Homo sapiens: one gene and its partners. The protein of the gene in region 1 interacts with the protein of each later gene in a biochemical or structural test. Each region holds a gene or a part of one and is shown on either strand. Other genes may lie near its edges.

Evidence for each region.
Region 2: the proteins of MTERF1 (region 1) and EXOC6B form a complex in vitro, tested with the Homo sapiens proteins (one large-scale study listed by BioGRID).
Region 3: the proteins of MTERF1 (region 1) and SYTL2 form a complex in vitro, tested with the Homo sapiens proteins (one large-scale study listed by BioGRID).
Region 4: the proteins of MTERF1 (region 1) and DNAJC21 form a complex in vitro, tested with the Homo sapiens proteins (one large-scale study listed by BioGRID).

What each region holds. Positions count from the first base shown.
Region 1 is NC_000007.14:91,876,994-91,882,594, forward strand, and holds the start of MTERF1 (transcription termination factor 1, mitochondrial isoform 1 precursor), read right to left. Parts: upstream 3,710-5,601; 5' UTR 3,664-3,709; exon of another isoform or gene 3,647-3,663; intron 3,121-3,646; 5' UTR 3,091-3,120; coding exon 3,062-3,090; intron 1-3,061. UniProt on the Homo sapiens protein: Transcription termination factor. Binds to a 28 bp region within the tRNA(Leu(uur)) gene at a position immediately adjacent to and downstream of the 16S rRNA gene; this region comprises a tridecamer sequence critical for directing accurate termination.
Region 2 is NC_000002.12:72,174,505-72,179,687, forward strand, and holds the end of EXOC6B (exocyst complex component 6B), read right to left. Parts: intron 4,958-5,183; coding exon 4,831-4,957; 3' UTR 1,480-4,830; downstream 1-1,479. UniProt on the Homo sapiens protein: Component of the exocyst complex involved in the docking of exocytic vesicles with fusion sites on the plasma membrane.
Region 3 is NC_000011.10:85,800,407-85,805,539, reverse strand, and holds part of SYTL2 (synaptotagmin-like protein 2), read left to right. Parts: intron 1-5,133.
Region 4 is NC_000005.10:34,946,032-34,951,164, reverse strand, and holds part of DNAJC21 (dnaJ homolog subfamily C member 21), read right to left. Parts: intron 1,623-5,133; coding exon of another isoform or gene 1,488-1,622; intron 996-1,487; coding exon 823-995; intron 722-822; coding exon of another isoform or gene 718-721; exon of another isoform or gene 1-717. UniProt on the Homo sapiens protein: May act as a co-chaperone for HSP70. May play a role in ribosomal RNA (rRNA) biogenesis, possibly in the maturation of the 60S subunit. Binds the precursor 45S rRNA.

The DNA of each region.
Region 1 (5,601 bases):
ATGATACAATGGGATGGAGGAAGAAAATAGTTAAAACTACAATTTGTATTTGTCTTAGCCTTTGAAAAATTCTTTCTACATATGTTTTATAATATAAACAATATGATTGTACTGTAAGACATATATAATCAATAAACAAATGTACATATATTGTAGGCATATTTCTATTGACAATGTACACAATCAAAAAAGTGTGAAGACTACTAGACAGTGCACTTTCTTAGGACTATTAGCATCATGGTAAACAGGCTGAATAAGCCACAGAATGTTCAACAGAAATTCTATTAATAACAAACTAAAAATAGGTGAAAATGTAAGCCAAAATTCCTAACAAAAAGTAACAAATCTATAAACGTTTCTTCTAAATCTGTCACAAGTAAATTTCATGTCTTGTGTATAACTCATCCTCCATGGAAGTTTCTTCCACACAAACTTAACATGCCCCAAACTTGAGTATCTTTCCCAGTCCCCAAATTTGCCCTCTTCTGACTAAAGATATCATTATCACAATCACTATCTAAGAGTCATTTGTGATAAAAATCTAAAAGTGAGCTTTGCTTTCTTCCTCTTCCTCAACTCCAGTCATCAAATCACGTAGACTCAACTTCTTTGGCATCTCTCTGAAATCCAACCTCGCTACTCTTTGTAATTCTCATTCTGTTACAAGTCTTCATTCTCTTTTACCCAGCCTGTAACAGCCACCTGATGTGCTTCTCTGACATCCATCACTCGAAACTGCCACCATACTGACATTTGTAAAATGATGTGATTATGTCCCTCATTCTCTGATTAAAGACCTTCTGTAGCTCTCCCCGAAAAAACAAAATCTTCAAAGTGATCTTTTTCTAGCTACCTTTTCAGTTAGCTAACTACCTTACCATCTACTTCTAACTACCTTTCTAGCTATCTCTTCTATTGTACCACCTCAATACCTAGCACTATCGCCTCTCAAACCTCTGATCCCAAACATCCTTGCCCATTCCTGTCTCCCTACCTTTGCTTAAGCTGTTCTTTCTTTTAGAAAGGCCCATCCTCCTGATGCCTATCCATAGGACAAGGTCCCATTCAAATATAATCTTCCCTCAAATCCTTAACTTACTTTAAAATACTAACCACTGAAATCAACCATTTGTTTTATGATAATTTATTACTAAGGAATCTAAAACTAAGCTTTCTATTTATAGAAAACAAGAGCTGAAATGGACTTACAACTGGCAACTGAAATTTGGTCTTGATTACAATACTAAAATGCAATAAATTTACTCTAAAAATGACATCTAAAAATGACATGTGTGGTCTCAGCTAAACCTAGAAATTTGGTCTTGATTACAATACTAAAATGCAGTAAATTTACTCTAAAAATGACATGTGTGGTCTCAGCTAAACTTAGAAACAGTAATTAATAATATTGACTGTTAATGAACATATGAGGAAACAGAGGAAATTCTCAAATATTGTTAATGGACCAGAATTTGGCACCAGCTGCCACAATTTTAAATGTTCATAGCCTTTAATTCAGCATTTCCACTTCTTGGAGATTATCCAAAGGGGGAAAAAAGGGCCAGGGGCAGCGGCTCACACCTGTAATGCCAGCATTTTGGAAAGCCAAGGTGGGAGGATTGCTTAAACCCAGGAGTTTGAGACCAGCCTGGACAACAAAGTGAGACCCTTATTCTACAAAAAATCAAAACATTAGCCAACTGTAACAGCACACACCTATAGTCCCAGCTGCTCAGAAGGCTGAGGTAGGAGGACTGCTTGAGCCCAGGAGATCCAGACTGCAGTGAGCCATAATCTAGCCACTGCACCCCAGCCTGGATGACAGAGTGAGCCCATCTCAAAAAGAAAAAAAGACAATATGTGTTTGTTATGAAAAAGGATGACTAGGCCAAGCACAGTGGCTTCACACCTATAATCTCACCACTTTGAGATGTTGGCCAGGAGTTTGAGATCAGCCTGGCCAACATGACGAAACCCCATCTCTACTAAAAATACTAAAATTAGCCAGGCATGGTGATATATGTCTCTAATCCCAGCTACTCAGGTGGCTAAGGCACAATAACTGCTTAAACCTGGGAGGCGGAGGTTGTAGTGAGCTGAGATTGCACCACTGCACTCCAGTCTGGGCAACAGAGCAAGAATCTGTCTCATAAAAAAAGAAAATAGAAGAAAAAGAAAGAAAGAAAAAGGATGACCATCATAACATTATTTGCTATAACAAAGAAGAAGAAACCCAAATGGCCACCAATAGAATAATTAATAAATTGTGGTACATCTATGCAATATACTATAAAGGTGCCAAAAATAAAGGCCGATCTACTGCAATCAAAAGATGTCAGATATTCTACATGACAAACTGCTTAACAGTATGGATAATGCCATGTATATTAAAGGCGGGGAGGGGGACGTTAATATATACAGAGGGGGAAAGTGGAATGACACTTATTTCTGAAAGATTATTAGAGGCTATGTACTACTTCTGAAATACTGGGACTTTATTTAATGAATATGTGTTACTTTGCAGTCAGATGAAAAAATTTAAACAAGTAAAACTGGCCTTTGGTGTGAAAAACAATGGAAAATACAAATTATCTTTATCTATTTTTCGGTTTCTAGTACCAAAAAAGTCACACTTCAAAATTCTCCATGATGCTTTACTCTTAGCAACGGATCTCCATTCAAAATACTCATAATATCTAGTAGGGTAAATGAACATCTAAATAGCCTAATACAAGAAAGTTAGCAACTTTCCTCACGTACAAATTTCAAAAATGGTACCTATTCAAAAATTGACTTCGATCTATTTCTCAAATTGACTTTTTAATTAACCAAAACCATTATCCAAAGGGCTAATGTTCAAACTTAACAAACACTGAAAATTTCTATGCTTGTAGTATGAGGGGTCTAAAAAAAGATTTACGTTCGCCTCTGCCCCACAACTGGCCTGTTAAAAAGGCTGTTAATGGAAATAACTAATCACTGGCCCTAAAATACCACATTCCAGCTGGTCTTCTTTTGATACAGCAAGCTAAGTTTGGAGATCTTTACATGCATTTCTCACCTTGTTTGTCCTAAGGAAAGGCTCTGCATCCCTCCAGAAAGGCTGGAGAACAGCTATCTCTGGAAATGACACACACACACAAAAAAAAGGCAAAATATTTCAGGCCTTCCTAATACAAAATAAGAGATCGATCCCAGCTAACGTTCTCGTTGCATTATGTTCTCGTGAGATGCATTACCTCTTGCAAACAACATTTCTCAGACATACAGAAAAGAAAACGGCAAGTACATGCCTACATATGATGGGAAAAGGTAGCGGAATCACGAATACGTTTTGTACCAAAGCTAAGTGCTTCATATATATTGTCTCGCTTTACTCCCCACAACAATTTAAAAGGTAGGCATAAGCCTTAAAATTACAAAATCTGAAACAGCGCCGAGCTCCCATACTAGCCTGCCTTCGCTAGCTGAAGCATTAGGGTTCGAACCCAGGTGGGTCTTTCTTAACTCAAAACCAAGGTAATTCCACACCGAAGGCTCTTTCCATCCCTCTTCCTCCTCCAAAGACAAATCTGCAAAGGGCTGCACTGTACAGCAGTCACCCACACCCACTTCTTAACAAAAAGAAAGGAAAGCACAGCCTCACCACCTTCCCAATCTCACCCTGAACTGCACCCATCCACTGTAGTTCGCTTTTACTTCCGCCTCTGGGGTCCGGAGCGGCTAGGAGGAGCGGAAGTGGAAAAGACTAACTTCCGGCCTCGGGTCGCGCGCAGAGGTGATGTCGTTGGTCCTGCGCCCCCTCGTGGCGGTACTTCAGCCCTTCGCAGCCCGACGCTAGGGGCCTGGCAGGGGGCAGCAAGAGACCGCGGTGAGCGCGGGGTATTGAACGCCAAAGAAGGGGTTTGGAGGGTGGGGTGGGGCCTGGGACTCCCAGTCGCCTGGGCAGATGTCCGTGGGGAACTGTAAGGCATCTTATAGGGATCCTACAGGGGGCATCCACTGCCGGCCGACGACACGTGGTGGAAAAGTAGCTATTATTTACATGCGTGTTGCAGTTTTTGATAATGCGATTGCTGCTGCTAATGTGACTAACGCGATGCCGATGAACATCTCGGCGTTTTTTGGTGCAGGATAAGCGGGTGTAGACTCTGTCTGTTTAGTCCCAGATTCTCCTCCTTTAATGAACTACCGTGGAAATCCTGGAGTGTCACTGCTGGTCTGAATTCAGCATCCGCCTTCAGGCTGGAAATCAATTCTAGTATACTTCGATTTCCTTACTTGCAGTTCGAATTCAAATATGATTCTTTTGACATTGTGAGGGTTTGCGCTATTTAAAGAATGGAGGCAACCGAAACCTCATCTCCACAGTGGATGCATTTTTGCTCCCTCCCGAGGCGTTGCCTTAAGCCACGCGGTCCTGTCAGCCTCACCTGCCTAGTGATGGTGACAATGGAAGAGATAAAGCTTCAATTCAAGGCACTTCTCCTGTGACCATCAAAAGAAAGATAATATCTACATTAATGAATTAATTGTGTCTGTCGAGTTATCCTCAGGAGACGATGGTGATTTGGTCCTTAAAAAAACACAGGATCAACAGGATTGACCCTGAATTCTACAAAGAGGAAAAATTTCAGGCATTACTAACTCCTCCATGTACAAGCCTAATGATGTAATTTTCTGGCCGGGCGCGATGGCTCATGCCTGTAATCCCAGCACTTTGGGAGGCCAAGGCGGGAGGATGGCTTGAGGCCAGGAGTTCGAGACCAGCCTGGCCAACATGGTGAAACCCCATCTCTACAAAAAGTACAAACATTAGCCAGGCGTGGTCACAGGTGCCTGTAGTCCCAGCTACTTGGGAGGCTAAGGTGGGAGAATCACCTGAGCCTGGGAGGTTGAGGCTGCAGTGAGCCGTGATTGTGCCACTACACTCTAGCCTGGGTGACACAGTGAACCTTGTCTCAAGAAAGAAAAAGAATTTTCTTTATCCCATTTCTTTCTCCTTTTTCTTTTTTTTTTTTTTTTTTCCTTTAGACGGAGTCTCACTCTGTTGCCAGGCTGGAGTGCAATGGCGCGATCTCGGCTCACTACAACCTCTGCCTCCCGGGTTCAAGCGATTCCCCTGCCTCAGCCTCCCGAGTAGCTGGGAGTACAGGCGCGTGCCACCATGCCCGGCAATTTTTTTGTTTTGTTTTTTGTTTTTTTGTTTTTTTGTATTTTAGTAGATACGGGGTTTCACCATGTTGGCCAGGATGGTCTCGATCTCCTGACCTCATGATCCACCCACCTCGGCCTCCCAAAGTGTTGGGATTACAGGCGTGAGCTACCGCACCCGGCGTGTTTATCCCATTTCTATGCCAATGAACCAATTACGTTTTACCATCACTCTTCCCCTTTGACTACTCCTAGTTGGGTTGTTGTTGTCACTTTGTTTTTAATTAACTCTCTGTTTTGTTGGTTTAGAAGGATAAAGATTTATCTTTGGGAATTTAAAATACTAATAATCAGTCTATCTATTAAGTAAACTACTTACTGCAATTCCTCCAGGTAAAAATTAGTCCCAAAAAATTGGAGATGGCTTTTAAAATGTGAATTTCTAAA
Region 2 (5,183 bases), on another chromosome or scaffold:
TGGCTTTCCCCCATGGGGAGAGCTACATGTCCGAAGGGATTTGGTTATTATTCAGTACTTTAGTCATGAATCTTTCATAGACATTGATGAAAGCCATGAACCTTCTTTCCAGAAAAAAATGGATGGCATGCACACATGCATGCAAACACACACACACACACACACATCTGCAAGGGTTCTTGGACACCTGGTTAAGAACTCCCAATAGAAGAAGGTGTAAGTTTTGGCACCAAAGTAAGAGTAGAGAAGATTCCATGTAGTGTTAAGGATAGGCTGTCCTCAGAGCCAGGCGGCTGGCTGATTTGAAAGGCGTGTCCCTCTGTTTCATATACAGGTGCTTGGCGGGGATGGCTATCACCAATCCTGAAGTGGACTTGGGGAGAGGATGTCAGGAGGCAGAGAAGCCCTGGACACTTTTGTCCAGCGCTCAGCCATGAGGCATGTTGTGGAATTGGAAGGTAGGGAGGAAAAGGCCTTAAATATTGCATGTGCTATTGCTCAGTTTGATACTGGCTAAGCATTTTGACCTTCCACAGCTCATTTACACTTCACAACAAACCTGTAAATTGGAGACTACCAGTCTGCTTTCATGGATGAGGATGATGATATTTAGGGAGCTCGTTTAGTAATTGTCAAGGTCAGGGGCTAGTAAGTGGCATTGCAGAGATCAAAGCCCCGGTCTCGGGCATGAAAGCCCAGTTGCAGTAGTCAGATTTCTTACTGGAGAAAATTGTTTCTAGTCTATTCCCATTGCTTGTGTGCTAGCCTGGAGGGCAAGCAGGCTGGGTGTTGCTACACTGGCATTGCTGGTCTTACTTACCATGGTTCCAGATGTGCCTAGGAGGTTCTTCATTACATCCCAGAACATACCAGGCTCATGCCAACATTGTACTCTAATATGGTCTGCACCAAAAATACTCATTCCTATGACTTAACAAAATTTGACTTGCATTCCTTCAAGGCCCAGCTAATTAACATTCTGCTTCTTCTGAGCTGTCTTTCCTAACCAGACCCTTTCCTTCACTAGGCCAGGATGACTGTACCCCTCCTGCACTGAGTCTAAAATAGGCTCATCTCTCCCTTTTCTCCAGCCTGGCTTTGTTCTGGATAATCCTACAACACTCCATCTTGACTGGGAGCCTTTCCTTGGCAGGGCTAGTGTTCAACATTGCGTTCTAAGTTGCCTAGCCCAGTGTTCCACATAACTCAAGCATTTCAAAAAGTTCTTCTTGATGATGATGCCAGTGTTAGCTGCATAAGCAGGAAAAAACGTAACCCAGGGGTTAGGGATGTTTCCAAGGCCACAGTACGGCTCCTTGCCTTGTGTGGAAGGTAGGCTTTCTCTTCCCCACTAGGCTCTTGCCTGCTCTAGTCCTCAGTCCAGCTGAGTGGGGATGCAATGTCAGCCATCCAGTTCACCAACCACAGCTGCACTGTGCAAAAAGGATGGAAGAACAAAATACCCATGAGACAACACCGTGGCTTTTGAAACAGGTATGTAGGCTTTCTTGTTTAATAGCAGTTAAAAGAGGAAAATGTACAAGAGGAATAAACATGCTCTTTTCACAGAGGAGCTTTCCCCTAACCATGCGGCCCATCTGTATCAGTAGCTTTACAAGTAAGTTTTAGAGAAAAAAGTTCCCTTTAGAGTTAAAAATGGACTTTCCTAATTTTCTCTATATATGTGCAACTATCTGTGTAAAATAAAAATGCCATTTCCAACACCTTTGTGAAAAGTAATTGTGAATGCAGGCAAAAAAAAAAAAAACAAAAAGGAAGAAGAAGAAGAAGAAGAAGAGGCAATTGCAGTCAAGAGAGGAGTCCTGGGAGAAGGGAGGCTAAGGTAGGGGAATTTCTGCAGCAGTTCCTAGAGAGTGTGCTCAGAGGCCTGATGAGGAAGGTCATGGCCAAAGCCAGTCTTGGGAGATAAAAGGCCGTGGGTCTGGGACTTGCTGAGTAAGCACTTGTCAAGTGTACAGTAAGGCTAGACTGACTTGGAGGACTGGTATGCAATGAGAACAGTGGGCAATGCACCCTGGAAGCTCTACATTCCCTTTGCCAACAGGATCTCACTTCCTGGTTCCCATTTTCAGGTCCTGTTCTTCCCTACCTGCAACAGCTTCATTTATAGCCTGCTCAAAGAGATTTTCCCTATGAATGTTAAAATGATGCAAGCAGCCTATATTACTACTGAAACCTAATAGAGTCCCAAACTGAACTGTCCCTTCAGGAATATAGACCTGGTTTCCTCAAGAACTTGGCCAAGGGTTCATCCTGACCAGAAGCCATACAGGCTTCTAGCCATCTGTGTGCTTGCCCTCTTATTGAGGCCCTCCACGGTACTTCTACATCTCTAGGTATTTGAGGCCATATCTGAGGAGTCTGATGGGTCTGGGCACACATGCTTTGCACAAGTCCTCTCAAGGGTTGGCCCAGCTACAGGTTATAGACAAAACTAAAAACATCCCACTTTTCTAGTTCAAAAACTTGACATTGCTGGTCCCTGTTTTTACCTTCCCTGGCCCACCAAGAGTATGTCTCTACATACAACTCAGTAGCTGCATGTTGTTTTTTGTTAGATAAGGTGAAGGCAGACTAAGAATGGAGAGAAGATATATCAAAGGGTCCATCTTTATGTCTTGAGCTTGAATAAGCTTTTCCTTTCATGGGACTTCTGTGCAGAATAACCCCTATTCCTCCACCTTGTTCACTTTTTCCTGTATAGCACAGTTCTTCCAAGGCAGAGGTTTGAGACCAGACCAGCAATGATGATCCTCTAAAAAGACAAACACTGTGCCATGCTTACACATCTCTCCATTTCCACTTCAAAGTCTCTCAGCACTTAAAGCTGAAGAGATCTTGCTGCAAACTGGGTACTAGCAAAGAGAAGTGTTTTGAACTCTTCTCAAGCAATAGAACTTCAGATTAATATAATCGTTTCTCACTTGTTTCAACAAAGATGAGAGCTTGGCGATGCCATTTTGGCTCCTGCCTTCTCTTGGCTTATCAAGTTCTGGGTGGCAGTGCTCATCCCTTACCCTCATTCTGAAACCCTGGCCAACCATCCAGCCCTCAGGATGAGCCTCAGCAGCATCTATGAGCTCACATGTAGCCTGGTCTCTCCAGCTTTGAGGAAATTTGTATGTCTGTGTGCACATCCTCTTCCCCATGACTATCAAGATATGATAGGATATGGTGAGGTAGGGGGGTTGGGGAGGGGCAAGGAAGTACTTCCCTCCCCAGAAGCAACTCAGTAGCTGACAAAGGTAGTGAAGAATTCTGTTTGATGAGTCTCTCCTCCCATCAATCCAAGCTGGAAATGCCTGTGTGGCTTATTTGTCATTGTTTGGTGATGCACAATTATACTCTTGCCACTAGCCATCTTTCTGCTACTAGCCAGTAGCATCTTTCTGAAGTGTCTTAAAGTACAGTTTCCCCCGACTGACCTCATAGCAAAGCCCTTGCGTTAAGTCTCAGGAGTCCATCTGGGTCAATGAGTGCAGCCTCCACGCTAAGCTGCTCCAGGCTTTAGAGTTTGGAGGACAGGATTATAGGCAATCTTTCTTAGACAAGGCCAAAGATGGCTTTGGGGATCTCAAAAGAGGGTGGGAACCTTGGGCTTGAGCAACAAAATAATATCTAGGATATTATTTAGTGAAGGACAGTTGGGCCAGAGGCAACAAGCCACAAGCCATGGTTGGCTCTGTCGACTTTATGGTAACAATGTCTCCATCCCTAGAGGCATCCAGTCCAGGCATGGCTGCCCCCACAGTGCAGAGCTGGTGACATTTCCTTAAAGATGATAACCAAAAAGCTGGTTTTAAAACATAAAGGAACAATCCCAACTAATCCTCAGGTTACACCTAAGGGTAAGGTAAAGGCCATTTTTAGGCTTCCGAAATCTGAACTATTTCAATGGCATTACTGGAGGAGGCTAAGTCTGAAACGCCCTGTGAAGGCCTATGGAAGTAACTGTTGATTTATGTCCTGAACCAAGTGCTCTGACTGTAAGTGAAGGAAATGAGATGAACAGGGAAGGGATTGGGTCTCTGATTCCATGAAAACTGGCTTTCAAGATCCAGAAAAACTCTTCGAGTTGAGACTCAACACTCCTAGAGCTGGGGCAATATGCAGTTAAACATGGGATCCAATTATTACTGCTGTCTACTTAGCTGTATCCTGCCCTAGAAAAAATTGCAATAAAAGCCTGGGGTTAGATCAGGCTAAAGAAACCGCCATTCTTGGGGGATTGGAATGAAGCTGTCATCTTGCCATATGCCATGCTTGTTCACAAGCCAGTGAAAGTCAGCAGACTGAGGAGATGACCCTCCAGAGCTGCCCTTAGTGTACTAAATAGTAATGTTTGCCATGCCCTTTCCTTGTATTGAGAAGAATCAGCCTCATCTATGTGGTGAATGGGCATCCAAGAGTGAACAGGACATATTTTAGTATCCTTTTGCTTACTCACTCTACCTCCCAGCGCCAGATACCCACTTTTTATGGTTCCTAAGCCCCAGACCTAAGCTTTAGAGCCATGGATGAAAGGTGGTTCATCACTGTGGAATTGATGATACCACCATCTCTAAGATAACACAGATAGTGTAGTAATAACTTCCCCTGAGTCCCAGCCTAGCAACATCTCATGTACTTGCTTATTCTTGTGCCTCTTTTACTATAGGGAAATGTTATGTGAATACTGCACAGGGGTTAATAAAAAAATACATATGCTCTCTTTGAAGAAGAATGCACAAATGCAGGGTCAGCTGGGGCTGGACCCCAGACTGACACAGAGGCTGCAGCAGGTCGCCTCTGTGGGTCCGGGGTCACCCTTCATGAGTGGTGGCTGCTGATGAGTCCTCGGAGCTGCTTGGCCACGGTGTCAATGAGTTTCTGCTTGTCTCGCTCATTTTTCCGAAACTGTGCAAACATGTTGTTCTTGCGGCTAGTATCCTTCATCCTAAACAGAGAAGGAAAGAAAGAGGGCAACATGTTTGAGGAAACAATGGTGGAAGGAGAACCTGCAGGAAGCAGGATGGCAATGCATCTTAACCACTACCCAGAGTAATGAGAGAGTCCAGAATATCTCCACTGTCAGGCCCACACTCACCTACTCATCAGGAAGCTGGCATTCTGGCACCTATAGCCCTCCCAACTTCAGTCACCTTTGGAAACTGGTCAAGACC
Region 3 (5,133 bases), on another chromosome or scaffold:
TAGCTGGATCCCAGGCAAGCTAAGTTCCTCAGTCAAATCTATTGCCTGACAATTCCCATTCCCTTTGCCAGTGATCTGTGTTGGGAGGAAGGCTGAGCTGTATTGTGTTAGATTTCTTAGGGCAGATTCTTTACCACTGTTGGTTTTAGACTAGCATTTGAGTTTTATAAGTAAAAGGTTTAGGTTTTCAGTTTTTTTGTTTTTTTTTTTTTGTAGAGATGGGATCTCACTGTGTTGCTCAGGCTGGTCTTGAACTCCTGGGCTCAAGCAGTCTTCCCACCTTGGCCACCCAAAACACTGGGGTTACAGGCATGAGCCACCACACTCGGCCCTTTTTCTTTTAGTTATAGTCTAGGGTTGTTTCAGTTATGCCATTTTGGGACACGTTCAGGGTTTTCATCCTGAGACCTTTGCTATCCCCAAGACTGCAACTATTGTCATAGCATGTAATTCCCTCCATGTGTCTATAAAATGAGAATGATCAGATTTGTTTGACAAGATTGTTTAGAGGATTAAATGAGGTCCTGTATTTAATGAAAACCAGCAAAAGCAGATTGAGATGCTGTGCTGGGTGGTTGACCAAAGACTTACCAGCCAAGGACTCACGACTTCATTCCTTTCTGGTGCTACTGTTGATTTAGCTACAATTTCTACATGACGTCTTCAAGGTAAGTTATGAATAGTTGGAGCCACCGGCATTCAAATGCAAATATGATAGATCTACTGCTGTTATGGCACCTAGAGGTAGTAACTGGTTATGTAGGATTCATTTTATTCAGTTATTTTAAAGGTATTTTACCTGATCTGGTATTTTTGGTTGCTAATGTAACATACTATATCACGTCTAATTGCTTCAGACTGAAAAACAGTCTGAAGCAAGTGAATGATGAAGATGTCTGACATTTATTGAGCACTTACTATGTACCAGGCAGTATTCCAAGCACTATACCTACATCAATTTATTTAATCCTCACAATAATCTATTATTGATACTATTTTTGGTACTATGATTGTTTCTATTTTATGATGAGGAAATTGAGGCCCATATAATTTAAATAAGTTGCCCAAGGTGACACAGCCAATAAGAACAACAACAGAGATTTGAATCCAGGCAGTTTGACTCCAGAGCCCATGCCTTGGATCTTTGGAAGATAATCTGATATAATTGTACGCTATCTGTACCCTACTTGTATTCTGCTCTACTGTTCATGAAATTACGTACGAAGCTGCAAACTGAGTTCTAGATGCAGAATGAGGGTACATAGCTTGCGATAGTGTTTTGACTACACAGGATAACCCTTGAAAATGGGCTTGTTGCAAAAATTTAGAAAATTTTGTTACACAGAGATAGTAATAATTAATAAAGTTTAAGTATTTCAGGAAATATTAGGGGGTGACACCAGACTACAAAGTGATGAGTCAGCAACTTAGTATACTATTTAAGAATCAACACTACCTGGAATGTAGTAACTGAAGTGTTGTGTTTAGGAAGTTGAATACAGGTAAATCACATAATTTATAGTCCTTTACTTAGAAAAGCAAAAATAGTATCTTTCTTTTCCATTCCTTTTAGGGATGCTACAAATAACAACAACATAATAAACAGAATGTCTGTTATCTATCTAGTGCATACTCTGTGTCAGTCCCTTTGCTATGTCCTTGTTCCTCTAATTGGCAGGACTACTCTCTAAAGTAGGTGATAATTATCCACTTTACTGATGAGGAAATGGAAGCACAGACAAGTCCTTTGCCCAAGGTCACAGAGGTGGTAAATGGCCAAACAAACAATTGATCCCAGGTTACTTTGACTGGAAAACCTGTACTCTTTTCACAACCCAGTATTGCCTCTTTGGGGGGAGTTCTCTAAAGGAAAGATGTTATATTCATGCTTACTGAATCCTGTGTTAAGACATATGTTTGTCACTAGTCTTGAAACAGATTATAAATATTCAAAACTAGGACTGTTCCAGAAAACCTAGGATATTTCTGTTACCATAGAGATGTAATGATGGGCTTAACATAATCTTCCAGGAAAAACAACTGGGTTCTCCCAGCGCTCCATGGCCTAAGGAGTCAGCCACTTATTCCTGCAGTTATGAAGCAGCACCACCCAGGACTAGAGCAACTGAAATACTATGGAGAACTGGCAAGAAGACCTTAATTACAGTTTATTTTGGGGCATCACAACTTGATAAGTGAGAGGGAATATACTGAAGAACTTGAGTAGAAATGAAGTTGATTTTCATGTTGTGCATGATATGAGGATTTTATAAAGATAAAGAATTTTTATATGAGTTGTCCTAGCAGGACCACTTAGATATGACACATTTTTACAGTTTTATAATATGCATTCTTGAACCTTTTTGAAATAGTATCATACTACCTTTCTGCAAATGTATTCACTGTGTTCTTGCCAGATTCCTAGCAACACCTTGCCATCTGATGGTTATAGCAGATGATTTTGAGGTGCAATCATAGGTGGAAGGTCAGAAGCCAGAGTTATGAAGCATAGTGGCCAACAAGGTGATGGGAGAGGGGTCATGGTTAAGAAGATGTTTCTGGCTAGTGTCCATGTTTCCCATAGAGGCCACTTTGTAGTGGAAATAAACTTGGCTTTGGAATAAGATAAGCTTGAATTTAAACATGAATGCACTTACTAGTTGTGTTATAAAGCAACTAATTTAACTGTGGTTAGCAGCTTTTGAGTTTCTTTGGGATAGGACTCTCAACTTCCTTTTCTGCAAAAATTGCATTCATTTTCTCACAAGATGGGGTAATAAATATATTAAAGCCTCTGACTTTGTGTCTTGCATAGAGTCACTATTCAATAAATGTCAGTTCTATTCATTTTCCTTTTCTTCCTTTCCTTTCTCTCTTCCCTTCTCTTTCTTTCCTCTCTTTCCTTCTCTTTCCTTCCCTTCCTCTTGGCTATTGAAGGTGACAATGGTGAAGTAGTACTTACAGTACAGTGTGGTAAGTGTTCTAGTTAGAAATGCATACAGCTTATTGTGAGATTGCTGAGAGAGCAACTGCCAGGGAAAGTAGGAAGGTGACAGATAAGCTAGACCTATGGCTGAGTAGGAGTTTGCTAGGTTAAGAAGAGACTGAGGGCTGGGTGCATTGGCTCATGCCTGTAATCCTAGCACTTTGGGAGGCTGGGCCTGGTGGTGGGCACCTGTAATTCCAGCTACTTGGGAGGCTGAGGCAGGAGAATTGCTTGAACCTGGGAGGCAGAGGTTGCAGTGAGCTGAGATCATGCCACTGCACTCCAGCCTGGGTGACAGAGCAAGGCTCCGGCTCACAAAAAAAAAAAAAAAAAGAAAAGAAAAAGAAGAAAAGAGAGTGTGGTGGGGAGGAAACGTTGAAGGATGTTTCAAGTTCAAAGCCATGGAGGCAGGGAGAGAAGGGATACCAGGAGAATGGGGAGGCCAGGCACGGTGGCCCATGCCTGTATTCCCAGCACTTTGGGAGCCTGAGGCGTGTGGATCACAAGGTCATGAGTTCAAGACCAGCCTGGCTAACATAGTAAAACCCCATCTCTACTAAAAATACAAAAACTTAGCCGGGCATGGTGGTGGGTGCCTGTAATCCCAGCTACTCTGGAGGCTGAGGCAGGAGTATCGCTTGAACCTGGGAGGTGGAGTTTGCAGTGAGCCGAGATCGCGCCATTGCACTCCAGCGACAGTGTAAGACTCCATCTGAAAAAAAAAAAAAAAAGAACGGGGAAGAGACTACTGAGTTGGCACACAGGACAGGTAAATTATGGTTGGTGGCGCTGCTAATGTAGTGGAGTTTCACCAAAGACCAAAGGTGAAATGAGGCTACAATCTGACCCTTTATCTTGGAGGCTGCCCTTTATCTTTGAAGTTTCTCAATATTGTAAGTGAGATAATGAAATTTCTCTTTAGGATAATAACACTGCTCACAGTATGAAAGATGGGTTTGGGGTTGATTGGCATACTTGTTTGCACTTGTGTGTACAGAGGAGATAACATATATTAAAGCTTTTTTGGTAAAAGGTAATGGTACTTGTAGAGATGGTGCTGCTATTCAAGACTTCTATAGGAGAGTACATAATGTGTTGGAAAATGGTGACTCCATATGCTAATTTATGGACTGGATCACATTGGAGCCAAATTGTTCCAAAAATATAAATATGTCTTACCTTGAGTTAAGCATGTTTACCACTTTTCAACAAAGGACCAGGTGTGTTTCTGGCAAAATGATTGAAGCTTGAATCCAGAAAAAAAAAGTTTAAGGCCCCTTTTTGTATTTCCAAAATTGAGTTTAAGGTTCTAGGGATAGTAGATACCTAATGCATGCTGAATTTGGTTAGTGCTTTGTAGAATTTCTTGTGCTTAGCATGCACTATTGTGGTTAGCAGCTGTTGAGTTTCTTAGAGGGAGGAGCAGAGAGGCTCAGACTACAAAACTATCATCTATGGGAAATGGCAAGAAGCTAGGTGGCCCTTCTCCCTAAGCAGTCAGGATCAGACCCAGGTACACACAGATGTGTGTTTCTGTGTTTCTAGCCCTGTGTTTATGTTTTCCGGATAGTTGCCTGCTTTATCTATGCTGGAGGGAAAACCCGACATTACCTGGGTTCCTTGGGGAAAGCCACTGGGGAGATTAGCCTTGGTTACTAGAGGTGCCTCAATGTGAAGACAGTCACCTGCATCTGCACTTGAACTATTAATAATGTGTGGCCAGGAGCCAAGGGTGTGGAGGAGACGTGGCTCTACCGGTCAGATTCTGCAGGGGACAGATGTGACCCTGTTGTGGAACTGAGCACAGGTATTTGCTTGGTGTGTGAGGAAGTGAGGAGGGAGTGGATGTGTTTGTTTTTTTCCTTCTCTGGCATACTTTTTCCAAGTCCACTCTCTCAGCAGCCAGGAACTAAAAGCAAGTCTTGGGCTGACATTCAGTGCATAGGGAGTAAGTTGTACCTTTTAAATTCCTGGGGGCCAGGCATAGTGGCTCATTCCTGTAATCTCAGCAGTTTGGGAGGCTGAGGTGGGAGGATTGCTTGAACCCAGGAGTTTGAGACCAGCCTGAGCAACATAGCAAGACCCCATCTCTACAGAAAAATAGAAAAAAATTAGCAGGGCATGTTGGTGCACACCTGTAGTCCCAG
Region 4 (5,133 bases), on another chromosome or scaffold:
GAGTCATACTGTAGGTCTCACCCACATCTGTTTCCTCCTTCCTACTACTAAGTGCCTTAAACTCCGAAGTACACACACTCCCCACCCCATCACTGTTGCTCCAGTGTTAGCATTTTCACGTCATGCTCCCACTTTGCTCTCTCACTTTAATTCTTTTCAGGGTTCTGTAATGACAGAAACTTGAAGCTCCTCACTATCAGATCTTTCCTCAAGAAATAAGAAATGATTCTCTGTTCTAGAGGAACCGAGGAGGATGGGGAAAAGAAAGTCAGACAAGAGGAGGAAGGAGAGAACAGGACTGGCTACCTCCCTTGGGTGAGACCTCCTCCTAGTCCACACCATGGCCTTGTGCAGCACCAAGAGTCCAGGGCTCCTCTGAGCAGGAAGGGCCCCAGCTGCTGCCATGTGTCCTCACAACATGGTGGGGCCCAACACAGGCTGCTGTCGTGAGCATGGAGATTTGCTTAGTGACACTCCAGGGACGCAGCAGGAGTCTTGTTCTCATGTGAGTGTCAAGTGTTAATGATCCACGACAAAATCAGCGCCACAGCAGGATAAGGTAAACAAGAACTGGATCAAAGTGACATCTTTCTGATTTTGGCCATGCTGCTGAGATGTGTGTGGGCACATTCCTCTAGCATCCTCTTCTCAACGCTCTTCATCTGTATACATATGTGTGTGTGTATCTATACATAAATATGTACAGATACATCTAAATTACCTGGTCAGTCATGGGAAAGAAGATTTTATTTGATATATGAAAAGCTACATCCTTACTATCAATATTCAGTAATTTACAAATAATATGCAACTTTGACTTACCTTTTAGCTTCACTTTTTGGATCATCACATGGTTTAATGATCTCTGTGACACTGACATTTTCCTGGGGACTATCTTCCAATTCTTTGGCACTGTCTTGATTTAAGTTAGTATCTTCTGGATCAACCTTTACTCCTTCTCCAGGTCCATTTACATTGAAATTGTCATCATAATTCTAGGTAATAAAACATATGTGCCGTTACAAAATAAATATAATACTACTACTAGCTTTTTATGTTATGTTGCCAAATAGTTATATACCTTCGGGAAATAAAAAGGAGAAGCAGGTAAGTTAAGAACATGGATGCTCATTACAGTGATAGTAAATTAAGGGAAATCTGAAAAGAATCCAAATGTTCAAAAAGTGAATGGCTGAATATATGAAGAAAAATTCTGAAGTGCTTAAGTATCATGTTTCCAAAGATACTCAATTATGTGAAAAAATACTTACAACATATTAGCAAAAGTAGAAGAAAGAAAATTATACATAGTGTAATCACAATTTAATTCTTTATTAAGTAATCTCTACAGGTAAAATTAAGGATGATACTTTTCCATATTCCAAATGATAAGCAATGAGCAACTATTCTTCTACAGTCACAAACAATGGCAACAACAAACAGGCATTATAAAAGAAAGACGCCTGGCAAACATATCCTAAGCGTACCTGTCTGTTTTCAAGCAACATTTTGGCACATTTGTGCTCGCTCTCTCCATCTCTTCTCTCTCCCAACACACACTTTTTTCCCCAAGCCATCTGAAAGTGAGCTGCAGGCAGATATGAATCTTTGCCAGGTACATCCTAAGAATCAAAACATTCTCTGGCACAATACTCACACTCAAGAATCTAATGCTAATATTATCTGTTACACAACCCACATTCAAATTTACCAATTACTCCTTTTCCTGTATAGGGATATACAGGATAGGGGGTGTAATCAAGGATCACATGTTGCATTTAGTTGTCAGGTACCTTTAATCTCCTTTATTCTAGAGCAGCTCCCCCACTTTTTTTTTGTCTTTCATGATGTTGACAATTTGATGTTTTGTAGAGTGTCCCATAATCTGGCTTTGTTTGGTTGTTTCCAAATGATCAGATTCAGGTTAAACATTTCTAGCATAATACTATAATCCCGGGAAGCAAAATGAGTTTGTCATTTTTCAGTGATATTATTAAGTTTGATCATTTGGTTAGGGTGGTATTGCCAGATTTTTCAACTGTAAAGTATGTTTTCCCTTTTTAAATTAATAAGTAATCTGCAGAGTGTGACTCTGAGACTGTGTGAATATCCTGTCCCCATGACCATTTACCGAATATACTTGGCATCTATTAATGATTCTTGCCTGAAACATTTATATACTGGTGGATGTAGAAGAGTGATTTTCTCCCTCTATTACTTGTGTCATTTGCACTTGTACTAATTAATATTTTTCTGTAATAATAAAGCTTTCCTATCTCCTTTCTCCAACTTTTTTTTTTTTGAGACAGTCTTGCTCTGTTGCCCAGGCTGGAGTGCAGTGGCGTGATCTCAGCTCACTGCAACCTCAGCCTCCCAGGTTCCAACGATTCTCCTGCCTCAGGCTCCTGAGTAGCTGGAATTACAGGCGCATGGCACCACGCCCGGCTAATTTTTGTATTTTTAGTAGAGATGGGGTTTCACTATGTTGGCCAAGCTGATCTTGAACTCCTGACTTTGTGATCCACCCGCCTTGGCCTCCCAAAGTTCTGGGATTACAGGCGTGAGCCACCGCACCTGGCCAGCTCTCACTATTTTAAAAGTCAATATAGATACATAAATTTCTTTTTAACAAATGCAATGTATGAAGATCTATTACCCTTATTCCTTTTGATGACTCAAGTTTTCCCTAACTGGCAGGCCCCGCAAGCTGGATCTTGAGTACTTCTAACGTATCCCCATCAGTTTTTGAGCACTTCCTTAGTTTCTAGTATAAGATGCTCTAGGCTCACGTTCCACTTTCCTAGTCTCAGCCCTGAAATCAGGTATTTCTCCAAAGAGCAAGCCTGTTTCCTTTTCATGGAAAAGTGAACTTAAAAACCAAAACGTGTGCATTAGGTGTACTCACTGCTAGGGGTGTCACTGCTTCTAGGTCCTCACAATGCACACTGCTCACACACTTACTTTCTTTAAATCATGGGCTCATACCAACATCTCCACTTCAATCCAACTCTACAGTATTCTTCTTCTCTTTTCCTCAATTTATATTTGTATTTCCCTCTTCCCACAAAAAGAATATGGTTCCCAGCTACAATTTATTCATTTAATTCCTTTTTTTGGGGGAGGGGTCAAGGATCAAATAATTTAATTTTATTAAGATGTCAATACAACCTACATTGTGAACAAATTCAATATAATTTCTATAAAAATCCCAATAGCACAGGATTTTTTTTTACAGAACTATTGCTTAAAATTTTTAAATTTGATTATGAACTATAACTAGCCAAGCACTCACGAAAAAGAGGAGGCATTATACTTCCTGATTTCAAAACATATTAAAAGCTACAATAACAAAAACAATGTGGTACTGACACAAAGACAGAAAAACAGATAACAGAACAGAATACGGCACAGAAATGAACTCTTCTATATATGATTAAATGATCTTCCACAAAGTTGCCATGAGCACATGATAGAGAAAAGATAATCTCTTCAAAAAAAAAAAAAAAAACATGGTGAAAACTGCATGTCTACACTGATAAAGCTGGATCCTCTCCTTGAATCATATACAAAAAATATTTTAAATAAAATACTTACACATAAAAATAACTAACAAACCTCTTAGAAAAAATATAGGGGAAAGAAATGACATGGGTCTTGGAACCATTTTCTTAGACACAACATTAAATATGTGATTAACAAAGAACAGAAAAATTTAACTACGTGATACTTCAACATTTCTGCACATCAATGCCTCCTCTATGAAATTGGTGAAAATATACTCATTTACTTTCAAAAATACCACACCAATACCACCAAAAAACATACTAAATTCAGGACTTACTTTTTTGGCAGTTAATTTTATCTTTCAACTATATCCCTTGGAAGGTATTCAGTCAGAGTACTATGTTTGAGTTACTTGAATTAAATTTTCTTTCCTGTCAGTCAGGGTCATTTCTTTCTATTTACATTCAGTTTTAATCTGGGAGGGTTTTCTTGTACAATTCCTTGTTGGTTATGGAATTTTTCTGGCCATACAGAAAACTTCCCCAATCTCAAGTTTCAAGATACTCATTATTTGCTGCCGTCTGCTCTTAAATCTATCAGTACATTTCTCCACACTGCCCTTCCCTTCAAAAAGAGCTTAGAAAATATCAGGAAAAGTGTTACATCAAGCTAGGTCTGAACTTGCTACAATCAGGAATCATAAACGAGAGATGCTATAAAGGAATATAGCTTTTGAGAGAAACGATGGGGTGTTCATTTGAAGCATTTTCATCAGTAAGAAAATACTAACGTATGTGTTTATGGTTGCAATCAATAGAATCTATGCTCCATTAATCAAGGTAATACAGGCTCAGGTTAAACATAAATCTCTCTCCATTTATTTTGTCCTTACTGTAATGGTACTGACATACACAAAGGAAAGAGAAAGTGTTCCAAACTAATAATTATAAGGTGTTTGGATGGATGATGGTAGATGTCAATTTATAAAAAGAACACATATTTGCTATGCGGTTTTATAACTGAAGCAAAAAGTTCCAAATTACAATTTTAAGTGATTAACTCATGTGTCATATATCATTTTTTGAATAGGAAACTGATTTTAAAAAAGACTATTAAATATATTATTATAACCATTTGGATAAATAAACCAAATCTGAAGTTTTATTAAAAAGCATTAATGTGTTTTCTTAAAAATATTTAATACTTAATGTAAGTTAATATAACTAGATTATACTAAAATGCCATAAATCCAAATGTCCTTGGTAAAATGGACAAATTCACTTTATTTTTATAGGTATAACAACATAATACCATTTTATTTAAAAATAGTCCTTAAGACAGAGAATGAATTTGGACTTCAGCTGTGAAATATTTAAATTACTTAAACTTCAGAAAAATAGAAACATTTTTTCAAGACTCACAATCATTACAAGTTTCTAACCAAATGTTCCTTTTGCAATGTTTATGTTGTTGGCAGAATAAACTGAGATAAAAAAATGACCAATCCCAGATTTTCCTATTTCAAGATTTTAATTGTTGTCTTGACTTAAAAGCCTTTTGTGAGATGTATTCAGATTTTTAAAATACTGAAAATTCAGCTAATTCATACCAGGGGAATTCTACATGCAT